Regions from separate parts of the Homo sapiens genome. Here region 2 is linked to region 1. The links come from fine-mapping of genetic effects on gene expression. Tissue or cell type: whole blood. Region 1 holds a variant in brackets; the other region holds the start of a gene. All regions are shown on one strand. Distances are from middle to middle.

Region 1 (2,681 bases):
TTAGTAGAGATGGGGTTTTACCATGTTGGCCAGGCTGGTCTCGATCTCTTGATCTCGTGATCCACCCGCCTCGGCCTCCCCAAGCACTGGGATTACAGGCATGAACCACGGCACCCGGCCTAACCAAGCTCTTATACCTACTGTCCCAGTAAGGAGAAGGCAGGCACCCAGAGGGCAGCACTGAGGGTGGGAGCAGGCACTAATGCCTCACTTGCTCAAAGTCTTTTTTTTTTTTTTTTGAGATGGAGTCTTGCTCTGTCAGCCAGGCTGGAGAGCAGTGGCTCGATCTCAGCTCACTGCAACCTCCGCCTCCCGGGTCAAGTGATTCTCCTGCCTCAGCCTCCCAAGTAGCTGGACTACAGGCATGCACCACCACGCCCAGCATTTTTTTTTTTTTTTTTGAGACGGAATTCTGCTCTTGTTGCCCAGGCTGGAGTGCAATGGCACGATCTCGGCGCACCGTAACCTCCGCCTCCCGGGTTCAAGCAATCCTCCTGCCTCAGCCTCCCTAGTAGCTGGGATTACAGACATGTGCCGCTATGCCTGGCTAATTTTGTATTTTAATAGAGAAGGGGTTTCTCCATGTTGGTCAGGCTGGTCTTGAACTCCCAGCCTCAGGTGATCCACCCGCCTTGGCCTCCCAAAGTGCTGGGATTACAGGTGTGAGCCACCGTGCCTGGCCATTTTTTTTTTTGTATTATTAGTAGAGATGGGGTTTCCCCATGTTGGCCAGGCTGGTAAAATTCTTTTTTTTTAATTTAATTTTTAATTTTTTAGAGATGGGGTCTTGCTATGTTGCCCAGGCTAGTCTCGAGCTCCTGAACTCAAGTGATCCTCCTGTCTCAGCCTCCCAAAGTGCTGAGATTACAGGTATTAGCCATCACACCTGCCCTCAAAATTCTTTAAATATTATATACATACAGAAGAAAACGTATAATAACAATATTTAAAACAAACACCTGTGGATTGTACCACCTAGTTTAAGAAACAAGCAGTTGCTTTTTCAAACTCTGGATGGAGGCAGTTTCAAATTTCAGGGCGAGATTTTAACAGTCTAACCCTCTCCGGTGCCTGCTTTTGCCTCCCTGGGTCAACAGGCCCCCGTCACCTCTTCTG[C/T]CCTCTTCACCCTAGCCTCCAGGGCTATTTTGGGTGTGTACCAGTTGGGGTTAATCTCCTTAAGCATTGAGCCGTGCTGCTCAGTGCACTCCTGATAGGTCCCAACCCTCTGCAAAGGGCATTCTGAGGGTTAGGCCGCCGGCCTCGGGCCTTCCCGGCCCCGTAGAGATACCATGGACACTGAGCTGTGAACTAGAACCGATGGGGGAGGGGGCTGCTGAGGCTGTGCAGGCAGTGGGAGTGGAAGGTCAGGAGGGCTCAGGCCCAGCAGCCGCTATTAGTAGGTTGCTTCGGGTTTGCTTCTCGAGTTTACCTCTAGGGAGAGCTTTCCTCCACCCCCACCAGCTCAGCTGCCCTGACCCTGGCTGGGTACAGGCGCTAATCCCCAGCCCCTGCTAACACCAGGGAGAAGGGAGGGGGAGGCAGGCTGGAGATTTTCTTTCCCACTTGGGAAGGAAAGAGGACACACAAGTTGACCGGTTGGGATCCGGTTCCTGAAACCTGAGACAAGGACAAGAGTTTCACTGAACCGTTGGCTACAGCTTGCCCAGGGGCTTTGTCTTCTACCTGGGCTGAAGGAGAGTTCCCGGATGATTAGGGCGGAGCTACACTGGCTGACAGGTCTGGCCCTTTAAAGGGAGGGAGAGAAGCTGGGGTCAATTCTTCCAAGTCCCACCTCTACCCTCCCCAATCCCCTGCTAACATTCACTCAACAAACAGAGGCTGAAGGCCTGCTGTGTGCTGGGCCCTGCATTTGCATTTTGCCCTCCAAGTCCCACAAGCTGGTGAGTGAGACAGCCCAAGAAAACAGATGATTATACAAAAGTCATGTCCCAAGGGCTTTGGTACAGACTGGTATTGGAGCGCTCAGACAAGGTGCCTGACCTTGAGGGAGTCCTGGAAGACTACCTGGAGGAAGTGGTACCTGAGACAGGCAGAACAAATAGGAGTTGACCTGGAAGAGGCAAGGGTGGAATATTCATGAAAAAGATGGTAAACAATCAGGAGGATCTCTGGAATATCCCATCCCTTGGAGGGAGACCCTGGAGGGAGAAGCAGGCCAAGGGCCCTCTGGCAGCCTAGACTCACTTTGCACAATAGCCAGAGTATGCATCTTGGGGCTGTCCTTCTGGGGAAAAGACAGACCTTAAGACTGTCTTAAGGCCAACCTCCCAATGTTGGTTTCTTTCTTTCTTTTTTTTTTTTAAATTTTATTATGAAAATTTTCGAACATACATACAAAAGTAGAAAAAATAATATAATGAACACCCATGTAGACCCATCACCCAGCTTCAACAATTGTCAACTGGTGGCCAATCTTGTTTCATCTATATATACCCCCACCCAGATTATTTTAAGGCTAATTCCCAAAGCCAATAAATTTTTCCCATAAATATTTATGTATTTATGTCTAAAAGAAAAGAATCCTTTAAAAAGTATATCTGCAATGCCATTATCACACCTAAAAGAAATTAATAGAAATTCCTTAACAGCATCCACTATCTAGTCAGGATTTACTTTCCCTAATCCACACTTAGTTTTTCTAGTTATGTTCCTACTCATGG
Region 2 (2,681 bases), 53 kb before region 1:
TCTACACTGTCTGCTGTTGCGGCTGGGGATCAACCCTGATTTAGATTTGGGTCTTCCTGATGCCTCTACCATTTACTGGCTGTATTACCTTGAACAAGTTCTTTAACCTCCATGAGTCCTAGTTTCTCAGTCTGTGAAATGCGATTGATAACACTGATGAACCTTGCTTAGTTCATGGAGTTGTGGAAAGATTCCAGTGAGGTAGATGTGGAAGCCCAGAAGTGTGTGAAAGGGTGTACATGGCAGGGGATTAAGGTAGGCTTTTGATGATCTCCCTGGCTTAATTTGCAGTTCCTCGGAGGGTACCTCATGTAGCATGGGGCATAGTCACTGGCACTCAGTATAAACCTGTGAAGACTGACCTCTCCCATCCTAAAACACTGTCTCCACCTGGAATTAACTGTTGCCCACCTGAAATTAACTGTTGCCCTCCCTATGCTCCGGTGGCTATTGCAGTACAGGCTTGCTCTGTGAAGGGCTTTCACTGTGAAGAGTGTTTAACTGGATGGGCCCCAGGTGGCCCCAGCAGCCTGCCTTCCCTGCTAGTGAGGCCATGGGCTGGTGCATGCCAGCTCTGTCCACTTGAAGGGGGAAGGGTCCATCGTAGGGAGCCAGTGCAGCTGGCAGGGTTCAGGCCTGTGGGCACCGCTGGGGACAAAGCCACTCTGAATGCCTCTCAATGAGTGCTTGTGTTCTGGGAATGGGGGCGGGGTGACATCCAGCCTCTTTCCCTCTCCGCCCCCGACAGGATGTCCCAGGCTGGACGCGGCAGAGGAGGTCCCCCACAAGTGAAGGTCCAGCCCTGCTCCTCCAGGGTTGGCCCATGTGTCTGGGCATTCGGAGGTGGCACCAGGATCAGGGCTTCTGGAGTCCAGCATAGTGATTGGGCCCAGGCCGGGGGCGGGTCCAGGACACAGCCAGGCTTCCCTGGCCGCAGTGCCCAACTGCCCGCAGTGCCCATGGTGGCTCGGATGGGAGGAACCACCGCGGAGCCGGGGACAGGGGGAGCAGGGCAGTGCTCTGCTGGGTGAGGGGCACCCAGCTCCAGAGGCTAGGTGGGCGTCGCTGGTGGGTGGACTCCTGGGCGCTGCGCGGAGCCGCGCCGGCTGGGTTAGCGCGGGCGGGGCGCTTAGTCCCACCCCCAGAGGAGGCGGAAGAGGAGCCCGAGCCTGGCCGCGGGCTGGGCCCCGCCGCAGCTCCAGCTGGCCGGCTTGGTCCTGCGGTCCCTTCTCTGGGAGGCCCGACCCCGGCCGCGCCCAGCCCCCACCATGCCACCCGCGGGGCTCCGCCGGGCCGCGCCGCTCACCGCAATCGCTCTGTTGGTGCTGGGGGCTCCCCTGGGTAAGGGGATGGGGAGAGATGCGGCAGGAGTGGGATGGGGGCGGAGGAAGGGGAGGGACCGATCCGAGGGGCTTGGGCTCGGGGCTTCTCCGAGACCCTCCGGCTGCCACGGGAGCCTTGGGTGTTGCTGGGTCCTCAAGAAGCGGGAAGAGGGAGCTCCAGGATGCTGGGCCATGGGAGGCTGATCCCGGGGTGCAGGGTCAGCTTCAGGCAGAGGCCTCGGGGGCTCTGGGGCTGAGACCCTCAGGGTGGAGACAAGGGGCAACCCTCAGTGTTCGGGAGCCGTCAGGCTGGGGACCGCCGGGGGAGTGGGGCCGAGCGCGGCTGGGGATGAACTGGCCTGGTGGCCACTGGGCACCCCCAATCCCTGCCCGCAGTGCTGGCCGGCGAGGACTGCCTGTGGTACCTGGACCGGAATGGCTCCTGGCATCCGGGGTTTAACTGCGAGTTCTTCACCTTCTGCTGCGGGACCTGCTACCATCGGTACTGCTGCAGGGACCTGACCTTGCTTATCACCGAGAGGCAGCAGAAGCACTGCCTGGCCTTCAGGTGGGTTCCTGCCTCCTCACCCTCACCACCTCCTCTATCCTTTTCTCCAGAGGCCTCCTCTTCCTCCCTCCCGGACTCCTGCCTCCTCCGTTGTCGACCTCCACATTCTTAGCTGAATAGAGTCACCAGGACTCAAGCCTGGCGGCAGAGCTAGGTGCTTAGGTGCTGGTGCCTGGGAGTTCCAGAAAAGGCATGTTAGTTACCTTCATAGGCTTTGACTGGGCCCGGGGTTTCCAGGTTCTTTCTGGAGCCCTCCCTTTGGTCCTGCCAGGTCATGGGGAGGGAGGGTTCAAGGTTAACACCCGGACGACAGTGTAGCTTTGTGGAAGAAGCTCTGGCACAAAGGCAGGAGACTTGGGTTTGATTCCCAGGTCCACTTCTTACTAGCTGTGTGATCTTGGAGAAGACACTTGCCTTCTATGGGTCATTGCTTGCCAAATTAGTGGTTGTCAAACTTTTTTTTAATATATCATATATAAAATAGATATAGAGACTTCTGATTGAAGCGGGGTTTGGAAAAAATGGCTCTAGATTATTTCTAAGGCTCCTTTCAGTGTTATGCTGTATGTCTAATCATTTAAGTTGTAGATATAAAAGCAATGGTTGGGGGCGCACTGCAAATCCCCGTATGCTTCACACTAGCCAGCCAGGCAGCATAGCCTTCTGGGAAGTGGAGGTCCTCTAAGATCTCCTTCACAGGGACTGGGCAGAGCCCCACAAGGAACCCCAAATCTCAGCATGCCATGGCCCCCCTGCTGGCCAGGAGTTGGAGCCAGCATAATGAGGACTCC

The links. PIP is the estimated chance that this variant, and not a neighbour inherited with it, causes the effect.
Region 2: it holds the start of SHISA4, and the variant in region 1 is fine-mapped to the expression of SHISA4 in whole blood (TOPMed, PIP above 0.99).

The regions. Positions count from the first base shown.
Region 1 is chr1:201,940,365-201,943,045 of GRCh38, forward strand. The region is part of intron 1 of LMOD1 (leiomodin 1); the gene reads right to left. Among named protein-coding and RNA genes, the nearest start is that of LMOD1, 4.8 kb to the right of the region's middle. RefSeq lists an enhancer at 1,087-2,036. The variant C/T (reference allele first, on the strand shown) is at 1,117.
Region 2 is chr1:201,887,727-201,890,407 of GRCh38, forward strand. It overlaps SHISA4 (shisa family member 4), which reads left to right and starts at 1,172. Exons shown (of 5, transcript NM_198149.3): 1 at 1,172-1,341; 2 at 1,719-1,890. The coding sequence starts at 1,269. RefSeq lists enhancers at 665-1,174, 1,015-1,309.